Linked DNA regions of Homo sapiens. Changing the gene in region 1 together with any one later gene gives a genetic interaction. Each region holds a gene or a part of one and is shown in the gene's direction. Other genes may lie near its edges.

Evidence for each region. A genetic interaction does not mean that the proteins touch.
Region 2: changes in TSHZ3 (region 1) and PTP4A3 together harm fitness less than expected from each alone (positive genetic interaction), as found in Homo sapiens cells (one study listed by BioGRID).

What each region holds. Positions count from the first base shown.
Region 1 is NC_000019.10:31,346,430-31,354,054, reverse strand, and holds the start of TSHZ3 (teashirt homolog 3), read left to right. Parts: upstream 1-4,618; 5' UTR 4,619-4,835; coding exon 4,836-4,875; intron 4,876-5,137; exon of another isoform or gene 5,138-7,625. UniProt on the Homo sapiens protein: Transcriptional regulator involved in developmental processes. Functions in association with APBB1, SET and HDAC factors as a transcriptional repressor, that inhibits the expression of CASP4.
Region 2 is NC_000008.11:141,416,000-141,423,031, forward strand, and holds part of PTP4A3 (protein tyrosine phosphatase type IVA 3), read left to right. Parts: intron 1-126; exon of another isoform or gene 127-1,358; intron 1,359-1,909; exon of another isoform or gene 1,910-2,032; intron 2,033-2,389; exon of another isoform or gene 2,390-5,388; 5' UTR 5,389-6,241; coding exon 6,242-6,346; intron 6,347-7,032. UniProt on the Homo sapiens protein: Protein tyrosine phosphatase which stimulates progression from G1 into S phase during mitosis. Enhances cell proliferation, cell motility and invasive activity, and promotes cancer metastasis.

The sequences.
Region 1 (7,625 bases):
CCCGGCGGTGGTTTGGCTACTCCTTTCTGGCACAGACTTCGTGACTTTGTGTGGTGTGTTGCGAGCCAAGTGCCCGTCCCCACAGCACACACCTGTTCCTAGCCTTGCCTGCATGTGACTTTTTTCTTTCTCTCTCTCTTTTAAAAACTTATCCGGGCAGAGCTCCCGGTAGCTAAGGTCATGAATGATCCTGGGGTGGGGCACAGGTAGCTCTGGGGACAGATGTCCCGATTTCCTTGAGTTCAAAAAGTCTGAGGCAGATTTCTAACCCCTGACCTGAAGCAGCTTCATTTGGGAGCTTTTCTACTGATTTTCTACTGATTACATAGCACCACTATGGAGGAGGAGCGGGATTCCACCGGGCCTGAGGTGCAATCGTGGGGGTCAGCACTGCCTTCATGGCCCTGGGGGATGTTTGGGGATCACAAGGTTACCACCCAGCTATTGGGTGAGCCAGCTGGCTGCCATGCGACTGCCAGTTTCTCCAATGGACATTTGCACCTCGGTGTTTCGGTGAGTCGTCCCACCGCCTTTGCTCATTTTTCCTCCTTCTATTTTTAGGGTTTTTTTTTTAATGTTCCCGGAAAGGCGGCACCTCCCAAAGGTGGGGACATCTCACTGGCCTAGGGGCTTACTTTTCAGAGTGACTCAGGCGGGTAGAAGTTACTAGGGCTGGCAGGGCCAGAGCCTGTTGTTTTTCAAAGATAATCTGCAACTCTGAAGAGTGGGGTGAAAAGATTTCTACACAGTGTACATTCTACAGAATTCTAGTTTCTCCGCGGGCGCAGACTTTTCCGCCCTCTAGTCTAGCGTGAAAACAGTTCGACCACTGGATGTGGGCGGCGAAGCCCGCACCCTAGAGCGCGGTGTCTCCCTGCAGGAGGGAGCTCCAGCCCGCGCCGCCGCGGCCGCTTCTGGCCTCCTCGGGAACCGAACCGAGCATACCTCAGTGCTCTCCTAGAAGCGGCTCCTTTTCCCCTTCTTACTCGCGAATGGCGAAATGAATAGCCGCGCGGGATTTTACCCGTTTGTGTAGTGGACTCTGAGGGGGCACCAGGTACCGAGACGGAAATCTTTGCGGTAAGAATAAAGTCAGGTAAAACGCCTGGTACAGCCGCCCTGCAGATGTCCCAAGAGTAGGTCCCCCGTACACTCTTCCCATTAAGTTCTTAGGGGGAGGACAGGGAAGGCCCTTTGGTCTGGCTGGATTGATCAGGGAGGTATGCGCATATGTTTGCCCTCTGGACATTTGGGGAGGGGTTATGGGGGAGTTGAAGGCAAGAGGCAAAATCAGGTAGAACAAACAACTACAGCCAAGAGCGGCACTCTCGGGGAATGGGCACACGGAACTCCGCGCAAACCTCTGGCTTCTCAAACCTACAGCCCTGCCCTTTCTCCCTTTGTAAACAAAATGTGAATTACAGACTTACTGCCATCCAGACACTATTTCTCCCTAAATCTGGCCCTTAGTTCTCACTGGGATCCACGTTTTCCTCCGCTCTCCAGCTCCTCTCCATCAGGCCATGTCACACACAGCAGCCAGGCGGGGCCAAAAAGTTTTAGCGCGAGACCTCCTGGCTAAAACCTGGCCAGCGACCTCGACAACACATCCTAGGCCCAGGTGAAGGGGGTTTAAGCCCTTGCATCCAGGTAGCTTCCGGTTCTGCAGTGTGCTTGGTGCGGATTTGGGAAGTCTCCCTTCCTTCTCTCCTAGCCACACCCAGCCCACACAAGGGCAGAGAAAACCTGGTGGAAAATAATGACTCGGGCGACACTGCCCCTCTTCCTTCAATTCCATCCCTACAATGGTCTGCAAAACTATTCATGTTTGGGGGTCCAGATATTAAGTGGGGGTGGGTACATGTGGCTGAAAGAACACAGATTAGGCCTTCAGGCTGTGCCAAGCCAGGCCGGGGGCCTTTTTGCGTGTCCCGACATGGCAGTATGGTTGCTGCGTGCACTCCGCATAGCCCGTGTTGTGCGTGGCGGGCTGTCGCTGCAATGTGCAGCCCATTGACACTGATGGATGCGCCAATGGTTGGACGGACAGATGTTAGGGCGGATCGCACAGCGCTCGGCGCCTGAGCGGGGGAGGGCCAGGCAGCGACCCAGCGGCGGCGGCCGGCTACGCGGAGACCCGAGTTCAGGCCGCGGCCCGCAGTGGGAGGGGGCCGAAGGAACAGAGGTTTGCAAGAACAGCGAGGGGATGGAAAGGAGGAGAAAAGCGCGACCAGGGAGAACTACACGCTTCCGTGTGCGGCGCCCCGCGCTGTGCACACGCCGCACCGGGCGCGCCTAAGTGGGAGCTTCGAAGGTGAGCTGGGAGCCGGCGGGAGCTGACCCCGTGCGGCGCAACCCGCCTCCAGGCGACAGGAGCTCAGCGCGGCCACCAGAATGGTGAGGCCGCCGGCGGTGTCGGCCAACTCACCGTTTCCTCGCTTGCAAGAAGCGTTTCACGCTCCACGGCCGCGTCTCCCCGGCCTGGAGGAGTAGCGGTTCTGGCCTCTGCGGCCGCGGGCACCCAACGCGCACGGCGCCTCAGCCCCCGAGTCCGCCAGCCCGAGAGCCCCGCCGCAGCCCGCCTCGGACTCCCTGCCCCGCCTGGGGTCCGTACCCCACAACTCCGAGCGCTCCTGCGCGCGGAAAGGCGCTGGAGGCGGCTTTATAGCCGGGGAGGCCAGCGGCGGCGCATCTGCATCCTGGGAGACGTCTGGACCCAGCCCAAGCCCGCAGGCTGGGCGAGCGGAGACTTTTGATCTTACCGTGTGGGTGAGATCACTGTCTCCCGGTCTAAAAGAAAAGAAAGCATGCTGTGAACTTTTGAAACAAACTTGCAAAAACAGTCGTAGAGAAAAAATAAAAAGGACACAGGGCAGAAAAAGAGGGAGAAAGAGACTAAAAAAAGAAAAAGATAAGGGGAGGGGGAAGGAAGGAAGGAGAGAAGGAGGAAGAAGTCTGGGGTTTGCTGCTCCAGGAGCGCTCAGGCAGCCGGTGCTGGAGCGCGGGGCGCCCGCCCTCGCCGGGACTGTCGGCCTCGGGGCCTGCGAGAGCGCCAGAGCCCCAGCCGGCGCGCCCGGGCGCAGGGCCGCCTCGGGGATAGTGGGCCCGGAGGCCGCCCCCGCGCTCCAGCAGCCGCCGCCCGGCAGCGCCCGGAGCCGGCCCCGGCGCGGCCGCCCCATTCCCGGCCTGAGAGCTGGCCCAGGGAGACGCAATCGAGCCCGCAGCGCATCGATGCGCCGCCGCCCGCGCCGCTCGGGCTCCGGCTCCCGCTCAGCCGCCGCCGCCCGGGGGTCGCCCGCATGAGCTCCGGCCCACCCGCGCCCTCACCGCCGCCCGTAAGTGAGCCCGCGTCGCCCCGCCGCCCACGCCGCCCAGCCAGCTCCTTCTTGCCGCGGCCAGTCGGCCGGGCCGGCCCGGAGCCTCAGCGACCCCGATCACCAATCAATAATCAATCCCTCTAGTCCAGCAGCCCCGGCAGGCCGGGCGCGGGACACGGCGCGGCGGCCCCCTAGGCTCTCGGGGGGAGCCCCTGGCGGGGGATGGGCAGGGGAGCCCGGTTTCCTTCTCCCGCCCCCGTCCCGCCCTAGGATCGGCCCGCGCCGTGGATGGGGGGCGCGGCCCGGCTCCCGGGGGCGAGGGGCGGGGTGGAGGGACCCTGATCATCCCAAAGTCAGGAGAGGAAACTTGAAGGAACCCCCTCCCACACCGACCCCCGGGACGGGCCCAGGAAAGTTTGTCCGGGGAAAAAAAATTGGGGGAAGTGGCTACGGCGGGTCCTGGGGGAGGAGCTGGGTGGCGCGGGGTCTGAGGGCTGCCCCCACCCGCCCCGGCCCGCGCCCGCCTCCTCCCTGGAGGGGGCCTGCCCGTGGGCTCTGGCTTCCCCGGGGGACGCCAGCCCCGGCCCGGGGACCACGCTGGGGGCTCCGGAGTCGGCGGGTGGAGAGGAGTGCGAGCCGGGTGGGGCAGCTGGGGGGTGGCTGGGGACGAACGCTGGGTGGGAATAGGGGTGGGGGGTAACGAGCGCCCCGGGACGGGCTCGGCGGGGCTGGCGCCGCGCCCCCGCGTGTGCGCACGGGGCGGAGGCGGAGGGGCGGCACCCCTTTCGCTGGCGGGGCGGGGGTCCCACGCGGGCCTGGGGCCGGGGGCGGGGGCGCGGCGCCCCCGCGGGCGGGCGATTGACACGATCATCTCCTTTTCCTTTAAGCTTGCCTGTTGCCGACGCCGCCGCTCCAGCCGCGCCACGGGCAGAAGACTGGACCGCCGAGCCCCGGGCCGCGGCGGCGGCTGCGCGTCCCCCCGGATGCCGTGACCCCCGGCCTAGGGGCGGGGGCCGGGGCAGTACCGGTCCGGGCCGCTCCCGCGCTCCTCCTCCCACCGCTCTGCCCGCCCTCTCCCCGCCCCCCAGCCCCGAACCCCGCGCACCTCGTCTGGGGACGGGGCGGGGGGGGGCAGGGCCGCCGCTCCTCCCCGCCCCCTCCTCCTCTGGCCTCTGGAGCGATTTGTCAAACTTCCCATTCCGCCGGCAGCGCGGTCCTCCTCCTCCTCCTCCACCTCCTCCTCCTCTGCCTCCTCCTCCCCCCCGTGCTCCTCCCTCCCCGAGCCTCCCTCGCCCGCCCTCCTTCTTCCCTCCGCACGTTCGGGGTTCGCGGCGGAGCGCGGCGCGGGGGGGACGCGGAGAGCCTGGGCGCAGCAGCATCCTGCGGGCGGCCGCTCTCCGGGGGGGAGGCTGAGAGCAGGCCCGCCTCGCCCCCCCGCGGGCCCGCCGCCCCCTCCCTCCCTGTCCTCAGCCCGGCAGCGGCGGCGGCGGCGGCAGTGGCAGTCGCCGGAGAAGCATCATGCCGAGGAGGAAGCAGCAGGCGCCCCGGCGCGCAGCAGGTACGAGCCGCTTCCCCTTCCTTCTGCTCTCCTCCTCCTCTTCCTCCGCTCGCCCCGCGCCTCCAGCGGGCGCGACCCCGCTCCTCGCCCCGCTCTTCTGCCCGCACTGAGTAACTCCGGGCGCCGCTCTCCTGTTTGGGTGCGTGCGCCCGCCTCGGGTACCGGGCGCCCCCCGGACGCCCCGCCGCGCTCTGCCCTCTTCCCTCTCGCACCCATTTGGGGAGCCGCTCGCGGAGCGCGCTGAGCCGCGCCAGGTCCCTACCTCCTCAGCTCTCCGGCTGCAGAGGGAATGGGAAGCAACCCCGGCCTGGCTCTTTCTGTGGGTGGCGGGCGGGGTCACCTGAGTTCCCCGGGACATCTTCCGCGTCCTCCGAGCGGCCGACCGCCGGGGGACTGCCTGGTGTCCGCCGAGCCAGGGAGCGCGAACGAGTGAGCGAGCCGGTCCCCTCGGCCACCTTAGTACTAACACGATTGATTCCTCATTTCTTGGGCCCAAACTGGGCACAGCGGTGGAACCCGGAGCGCACAGGGTCTGGGTATTGTCAGATGACTGTCAAGTCCATGTTAGATGCTGGCGTTTCCTTCTCCCCTGTTTGTGTTTCCTCGCCCCCACCCCCTCCTTGTACTGCTGCTCCCACCCTCATCTCCGCATAGCACTTAGTTCTGGGACGTGTCTGAGTACTTTTTTGTTCCTCCTTTTTTTTTTTTTTTCTTCTTCTTTAACCGGGAGTGTCAACTCCTGTTAAGACTGAGCCGATTTTTTTCTTTTCTTTTCTGGAAAACGCATCATTGAAAACAAAACAAAAACCACACACATAACATTATTTTGCAATAATGTCGGTTGGGGGCATGTTGCCTGGAAGAAGGGTTTCTGGCCCGTTGCCATCCTTGATTTGATGACTGATTGATCGCCCGTCATGCTGCTGCCTTTGATCTATTCATTCCCAATAAACATCAATAAATCACTTGCAATAGTGAGGCCAAGCTCTGTGACGTCAGGAGGGCCCTGTCAGTGCAACTTTGGGATTTGGGGCGGATTGCCGAGAGGACCACATATGGACGTGATGTATTTTGATATGAGTAACACTCAGATGTGCAGAGGTTCAGATGCTCCCTGAAGGGGAGGGTTAAGTGGGGCTTCCTTTCTTTTCTTTTCTCTTCCTTTCTTTTACTTCTCTTTTGATGTTAAGAGGGAAGGGCAGAGAGTAGGGTCAGGGCATTGGCTGGTGCCCATCTTGGAGGAAGGCGTTGTAGCCATGGTGCCCTGAGTGCCCATAATTTCCATCATGCCAGCCGGCACTGCCAGGGGACCTCACACGTTGGCTGCACTCTGCACTCCAGACCCCTTACACGGGGTCACAGAGAAGGAATGATAATTCTCTCTTCTCCCAGAAATGTACTTGCCTGCCAGTGTCTTCAGAAAATCTCAGAAGAAAACAGGGTTGGTTTGGGGCTTAGGATGCAGGTTTTGCTCTCTGTCCTCGGTGTTGCCCAAATTTAGAAAGTTTGAAAATTCCAGGAGTGATTGTAGGGAGCTTGCCGCCTCCCTAGTTAACCTCCTGGAGCTTGCTTCTTGCCCGTCCCACCTTCTACTTTAAATTCCAGGCTCAAGCAATGAGCTTATCTACCCAAAATAAACTCTGAAACTTTGGAGGAATCCTTCACAAAGTTGAGTAGTAGGAATGTCTTGGGCTTCTTCCAGTCTTTGAAATTTTTTTTTTCTTTCCTTTTTGGATACACATTTTAAGGTATGTGTGTGCCTCCATCCAATGAACCATATGTGATTACATCTTTACATTTGGTTCAGAACTCTCTCTCTAGTTCATCTCTTCGGTTGCACCCTGCCAATCTGAGACTCGTATTTGATAGCTTCCTCCAGAAAAATATCAGAGGAGGAGGGAACCTGCTGTTGGCTTTATTTATTTATTTATTTATTTATTTTTAGAGCAACCTGTTCACTAACCTTTTCACACTTTTTTTTTTTTTTTAAAGAAAGCCAGCCAGGAAATCTCAGGTCAGTTAAGAAAAATTCATTATATAAAAAACTTGACTGCAGGACTAATAGGAGATGGAAGAATGGTTTTGCTCTATCAAAATGACCCGTCAAAACGACTTTGTTTCATATTTGATTTAATTGTCTCTCTCCTGACAGGCACATTCATCAATAGCTTAATGGTCAATCAGAAGCTGGCAGCATGAGTGCTTTATTTCTTTCCCATACTCGGGTTTTGGATTTACTTTATCAGAATGCCTCTGCCTAATGGACATGTGGAGGAGGGGGTGGAGGCGGACTGAAGAGCTACTTATTTAAGAAGAGTGGAGAGAAAAAAAAAAAACTCCACATTTAGGCTGGTGATAAGTATGCACAGAGGTTTTTTTTTTGGGGGTGGTTTGTTTGTTTGGATGGACCAGAAACTTCCCATTTTTTTCTCCTCTTTTTTAGTTTTCCCAGCTGCAAGTTATAAGGTTCATGCCAGCTTTTGTGGCATACTGGGAGTGATGACAAATTGATTGCTTTGTACTGATAGAGAGAGAGAGTGGGGAAAAGAAAGATGTCTGCTGATTGGTAACTGGAAATCCAGTCCCCAGCAACCTTGAGAATACTCGAGAATTTTTTTCCCCTCCAAACTGAAAGGTCCGCTCAGCCATAAAAAAAGAAAAGTTGTTTTGCCAGCTTCATTAGTGTTCACCTAATTAGCTGTAAACCTGATGGATTCCTGACAGCTTTAATGATTGGAGATGACAAGCTC
Region 2 (7,032 bases), on another chromosome or scaffold:
CTTCTCCGAAAGGCCTGGGGCTGTGCCAGCTGCAGCAGGTGCCTCCCAGGCCCGGCCAGAGGGCCCCAGGCAAGGGGGTGGAGCCCGGGTGGGGGTGATGAGGATGCTGGGGTCCACTTTTGTAGCGCCAGAGGCGACGGGCTCTGTCTGGTTGTAGCATCACAGAGCTTGATGGGAACTTTCACTCTGAGACCCCTTTTATGGATAAGAAAACTGAGGCTGGGGGGCAGGAGCAGCTTACCCCAGAGGTCCTCTCTCCCAGAGGGCTAGGGTGGGGATAAGCAGGGTCTCGGGGGCAGCAAGACCCAGCTCCAAATGTGGTTTTTCTGCCTTCTGGCTGTGTGACTCAGAAGGGTTGCTCAGCTTCTCTGTGCTGTTATGGTTTGTCAGTGCAGTGTGGCAGGTGTGTGTCTTGCTTGTGGAATGCAGTGTCTAGCCTGGTATCCTTAGAAAGTGGCTGAGGTTGGAGATTGGTGGGGCAGAGTCCCTGAAGCTGACCCATTCTTGCCTTCAACCTTCAGGGAGACGCTGCTGGAAGTGGTGAGCTGAGAGCACTGGGCAGGAGTCAGAGCCTAGCGTCTCCCTGTGGAGCTGGGTGCACCCACGTGGGTGGGTGCCCTTGCCAGGGAGCTCACACCCTTGGGGGTCCATGAGCTGGCAGGCAGGGCTACCTGGCTTGGTGTGCCCTTGGGTGGAGGCTCCCATGGGGCCCTTCAGACTGGGCACAGCCCTCCTGTCCTCTGCTCCCCAGCCTGCTTGCCCACCTGGAGGTGGGAGGAGGCGAGGGTTGCCGGCACAGCTGGGCCAGGCTGATGGTGATGTTTTCTGGAAGTGTGGGTGGGGAGAGCCTGGCAGGGGGAGGGGGGGTCGTGCTCTCAGCTGGGCCCCTTGATGACCTCAGATTGCAGGGACCAGGTTGTTTGAGAGCTGCAAGCAGGGCCACACCTCCAGGGACCCTGTGCTGGGGGTACCACCCTTGCCGCTCCACCCTGCTCTGAGGGCCCTGGGTGGCCAGGGCGGGCACAGAGTGGGTGGTGATGCCAGCTGCATCCCTGGGGTTCATAGTCTGGGGAGCACATGAGTTCCCGGCACAATGCTCCCAGGAGGCAGAGCCAGGAGTCGCAGGGAGGCGTTTGCTTGAGAGGGTCTGGGAGGGCTTCCTGGAAGAGGGGGCATCAGTGCCGAGCCTCAGAGTTTGTGGAGCCCGCCGCCTGGCTGAATCCTGCCTGCCGGTGTTACCTCAGGGTGTTCCTCGTTGCAGTGCCTCAGTTTCCTCACCAGTACGCTAGGAGAGACCAGCGTAGCCAGCCACAGCGGGGTCGTGAGGATTAAGTGAGGGGACAGCAGTGTCTGGCACGGTGGGTGCTGAGTAAATTCATGGAGGAGTGCCCGGGCGGTGGGGCTGGTGGGCTGGGCAGGGGGTCTGAACTGGAGGGACTCGGGCGCCCTCCTCCTCAGGGTGCAGGACAGCACCTGCACGGCGGGGCCGCATTTCCATTTCCAAAGCTGGGCGCGCTCTGTCCAGGCCTCCCCACCAGGAGCGCGGCCCGGCGGCTCCTGCCCTCCGGACCCCCAGCCCACAGGCCCGTGCAGCCCCATGAGGGGGCCAGGGGGAGCTCCGAGGTTCTAGGGAGGGCGCGCACCGGGAGAGGGCGCCGGGCCGGCCGGCGGGAGGAAGGAGGGGTCCCGGGCGGCAGCGCCCCCGGCCCTCGCCGCGCCCCGCACTTCCCTTTCCTGGCTGGGCTTCCTCTTCCCCGCGCCCGCCCTGCGCGGCCCCTTTGTTTCCCGGGCAGGGCGCGGCTATATTTAGGCGGCAGGTGTGGGAGCCCCCGGCAGCCGGGTCGCCCGCCGGTCACGCCCCCCACGTGACGCCCGGGCGCTATAAATAGCCGCAGGCGGCGGTGGCGGCAGCGCCTGGAGCCGGCTCCGCGGCGGAGGGGCGGCGCCCCGACCCAGGGCCAGCACCGTGGGCACCGCCAGGCCGGCGCGTATGGAGGCGGTGGGACGCCTGCGGCGCGGGTGAGCCTGGCAGGTGGGGACGCGGCGGACCCAGGCCTTCCGGGACCCCAGCCCCGCCGGGGAGGAGGTGGCGCCCTCCGGAGGGCTGGGCGGGAGCCCCGCTGGCACCCAGGGAGGGGGCCGCGCCCCTTACCACGACCCCACCCGCGACTGGTTCCCCGGGACTCCCCAGAGCGCCCGCCTCAGCCCTGACCGCGGCGCAGCTTACTTCTCCTGAGACCCGCTGAGCCCCGGGCCTCCAGCCTCCTCCCCCAAAATCACAGGGGGCGCCCTGTCTGAAGCGGGGGCTGGATTCAAACTTCTTAAGCTGCTGTGCCATCGGGAAGGAGGGCGGTAGCCTCCCTGAACCTCGATTTCCTCTTCTGTGCAGGGCGCTGCGTGTTGTTCCTGCCTCCTAGATTTGAGCCAGAGAGAACCCAGTTAACTGGACGCCTGGTGTGGCCCTGGTGGAGAATGTTCTCCCCTCTCCCTGGCTTGTTTCCTCATCTCGCAAACAGGGACAAGGATGGACTCTCCCTTAAAGGGTCTTGAGAAATAGCTGAGGGCTCTGGGCCTGCTGGCCCGAGGAGGCTGAGCCAGATCTTGGGAAGGGTTCTGCAGGGCTTGGTAGCAGGAGGGAAGGAGGTAGCAGGAGGGAAAGAGGGGCCACGGCTGCCAGTGGGTCCCCGTGCTGTGGGCCGCGGGCCTGGTGGGGGTGGTAGCGACTCAGGACACATGGAGGCAGGGGCAACCTGTCCCCATTTCGCAGATGGGAAGCCTGAGGCTTTGGCTTCAGGGAGTTCTCAGTGCCCATCCCTGGGGATCCTTAACCCTTGCTCTCAGGGCCCTACCTGGTGACCTCACTGGGGGCGTGTGGTTATGGAGGGGTTTTCTCCCTTGGGGGACAGCCACCAGGCAGGGCAGAGCCACATAGTGGTGCCAGGGCATCATTGCTTTGCTCTCACCTGGGGCAGGGGTAGGGGCCCTAGGCTGCAGAGACAAGTGGGATGTGTGGCAAGACCCTGGTCCAGCCTCTCCCTGGACCCCTAACCCCATTCTAGCCTGGGCTGTGACCCCTGAGCGTAGCCCAGGCTAACCCCCTGATTCCGGCAGATGTGTGGCATCCTTAGGCCTTCAGTGGGGGGTAGTGTGGGGTGGTTCGGAGCCTCCTCCCTCCCAGTAGCCTGCAGCCCTGAGGACCTGTGCAGGGCCACTAGGCAGCAGGTCCAGGCCACGTGCTGGTGCCTGTGGGGTCTTCCTGGGTCCCTGGCAGCTGTAGGTGTGAGGGGTTGGTCAGCCCCTCAGGGAGAGGCCCAATACTGTGGTTTCTCTGGTGCTTTTCTTCCTTTCTTTCTGTAAACATGAGCTCGGCTCCCGTGTGCACACACACAGGGACATCCTGCTGCCCCAAGAGGGACCCAGGTGTTTGTGTGCTGTTAGCACGTGGTGGCTTCCCTCACCCACACTCAGAGCCTGTGCTCCCTCCAGTCGGGCAAGGTGGGGACTGGCGGGACCAGGGACAGTATCCTTGTCTCCACCTTTACCTCCTTCTGGGGGTCCCACCCCACCACCGGTTTTTTTTTTTTTTTTTGAGACGGAGTTTTGCTCTTGTTGCCCAGGCTAGAGGGCAATGGAGCGATCTCGGCTCACTGCAACCTCTGCCTCCAGGGTTCAAGCGATTCTCCTGCCTCAGCCTCCCGAGTAGCTGGGATTACAGGCATGCACTTCCATGCCTGGCTCATTTTTTATTTTTTTATTTTTAGTAGAGATGGGGTTTCTCCATGTTGGTCAGGCTGGTCTTGAACTCCTGACCTCAGGTGATCCGCCCGCCTTGGCCTCCCAAAATGCTGGGATTACAGGAGTGAGCCACTGCGCCTGACACCCACCGCCCATTTTAACCTTCCCAGAACCATGCAGTGGACAGAGCCTGAGGTGTGGCGGCTGCTCTGAGCCCATGAGCACTGGCTGCCACCCAGGGTGTGGAGGGCAGGCAGGGAGGAGCCCACTGTCCCAGGTAGCCACCCTCTGAGTCCAGGGGCCCAGGCCTCAAGCCCTACCTGCACCTGGGCTGAAGCTCCAAGGGCCCAGCCTGCCTGGTGGGCAGCTGGGAAGGGGGTGCTGGGGCTGGGGCAGGGGCACAGGTGAGAGGGGGTGGGTTGGGGAATGGAGGGCTCTGCTGGGCGAGGGGCCCTGAAGTGCCTTTCCTTGGGTAGCAGGCAGTAGTGACAGGGCCGGGCTTGGGTTGAGTCTAGGGGGCTGGAGAGTCTGCTAACAGCTGGGTCACAGCCAGGGCCAGCAGTGCGGGGACCCCTCAGCAGCAGTGCCCAAATACAGCTTGGGTCACTTGTGTCACCCCTCATCGTGCTCATGGGGTAACAAAGAGGCCGGCACCTTGCTCAAGGCCTCCCAGCCCTTCCGTAGAGAGGGAAGGGGGCTGCGTGCTCCTGGAACCCCTTTGCCTGGGAGCTTTGGGGTCATGAGACCCAGAAAGGGAGAGAGGCAGGCGTGGAGGTGCCTTGGGTTGCTGTGGCCCCCCCTGCCGCCTCCCCTCTTCAGGGCCCTGTCATGGTGTGAACCCACTCCTGGCCACCTGTGCTGTCACCACCTTGGCATGTGTGCCTGATGGCTGGCCCATTGGCGTGTTCTGTCCCCGCCTCCCTGAGCTCCTGGAGGGGCAGAGCTGGCCTGTTTATCCCCGAGCCTGGCTGAGACCTGTGTGAGCAGTGGAGACACAGTGGCGGGGGGACACTGGTGGACAGGGGGCTGCTGACAGGCAGGAGACTTTCTGCAGAAAGCAAGAGGCGATTAGGGTGGCCCACGGCCGCGTGTGGGGCCAGGCCCCTCACCTCCCTGTGCTGGCAGCACTGACCGAGTGCCTGGGCCCCATTCCCTGAGGATGGGCCACCCAGAGACACCTGGGCTCAGATGTTCACAGTGGCTGAGAATCGGAAGAGGAGAGGGCAGCTGTCCTGGGGTGGAGTTTCCGCAGATCACAGCAGGTGGGCAGGGGCCAGGCTCAGGCTTCTTAGGAACTCGGCCTCTGTCCCCACAGAGGGATCTGTCATCTGTGTGCTGGGGTTCATCATGTCCTCGGGGGTGTGTGTGTCCCTGAAATCCCTGTCCCCTCTGTCCTCCGTCATGCCCTGCTGGCTGTGTGGTGGCTACCCTGTCGCCTCTGGGCCCTGGGTCAGTCCTGGCAGGAGCCGTGCTTCCTTGTGCTCCCATATAAGGAAATAGACCCAAAAGGGTCATTCTCTCAGCATGGTCAGGAGGAGGGCTCTGGGAGAGGTGTCGCCTGTGACTGTGGGCTCATGACAGGCATGAACCCCTTGTGGGAGGCGGGGCCCCCTGTGATCCCTTTCTATTCATTTCCTTCGTCTTTCCCCACAGATGCTGTGTGCTGTGGACCCACCTGGGGTTCATGGAGTGGGCCACGGGGCCCAGCCCTAAGCACTGCTGCGCCCAGGGTCGCCGCGCCTCCTGCTGAGGGGTCCCCGTGCCACTGGCTCTCACCATTGCCCTCGCCTGCCGATGGCCTCTGCTGCCCAGCCTGGGGCCAGCTCTACCGCCTGAGCCCCCTGCCCCACTCCAGGACTCACCGTACCCCGATGGGGTAACGTGACACAGGCCCCACACGTCAGAGGCCGCTGTCCCCACGGCCACTGCCCGTGACCCCTGGCCCAAGGCAGCTGGAGTTGGTTCAGTTCAAGTTCATTCTTCCTCTGGCCCTTGGGGGCTTGGGGCCCACCTCTGAGTGAAGGGGGCTGTCTGCCCATCCACCAATGTGGAGAGGGCGCCCCCGGTGTGGGGTCCAGCTCTGGACACTGCTTGGCGGCCGGGTTCACTTTGAGTTTTTAAGTTTTCTTTGCTGAGCTTTTTTGGTTGTTCTTTTTATTTTTTGCCTCTTTATGACTATCCAGCTCTGAGAGACGGGAGTTTGGAGTTGCCCGCTTTACTTTGGTTGGGTTGGGGGGGGCGGCGGGCTGTTTTGTTCCTTTTCTTTTTTAAGAGTTGGGTTTTCTTTTTTAATTATCCAAACAGTGGGCAGCTTCCTCCCCCACACCCAAGTATTTGCACAATATTTGTGCGGGGTATGGGGGTGGGTTTTTAAATCTCGTTTCTCTTGGACAAGCACAGGGATCTCGTTCTCCTCATTTTTTGGGGGTGTGTGGGGACTTCTCAGGTCGTGTCCCCAGCCTTCTCTGCAGTCCCTTCTGCCCTGCCGGGCCCGTCGGGAGGCGCCATGGCTCGGATGAACCGCCCGGCCCCGGTGGAGGTGAGCTACAAACACATGCGCTTCCTCATCACCCACAACCCCACCAACGCCACGCTCAGCACCTTCATTGAGGTGAGTGGAGACGGAGGTGTGGCAGGCAGGTGGCCCAGGTGTCTGGGAAGCCCGGCTGAGCTGCCCTCAGGCCTCGCAAGAGGGGTCCCCAGCCCCGGCTGGCCAGACAGGGCTCACAGCCTTGGAACAAAGCCCAGTCGCCTGTTACAGGATCCTGGAGGAGGGAGATGGGGGTGCCCCGGGGGTTGGGGTTGAGGGTGTTGGGGGATCAACGGGGTCCCCTGGGAGGCCTGCAGGGGGCTGGCGTGTGATAGGAGGGACTCCACGCTGTGTGGATAGAGGCAGGGGGTGAGGCAGGGGGATACATGGACCAGGCTGTGCGTGCTCAGCCGTGGCCTGGGCTGGGGCCCTCCCGAGCCCTTTGCTGTCCCAGATGTTGCTGGGCTCTGGATGAGGCCTCAGGTTAGACCAGGCTGGACTAGGGGCTTCAGGGCCCAGATCTCTGTGTGAGGAGGGACTGAGCAAGGGTCAGCGCTGACCACAGGAGGGAGGGACCACTGTGCCCTGGAGAGGCAGCAGAGATACCTGCCGCTGGCAACCCTGGCAGATGGGACGAGATGCGTTTACAGAAGCTTTCTTGGGAGTGGAGTCTGGAGCGACCTGCATGGCCTCCTGGAGGAGCCTGGCCTCTGCAGAACGCCCTGCTGTTTGCAGGCCTGGGGCCGTTTGCAGCGTCTGCAGTTGTG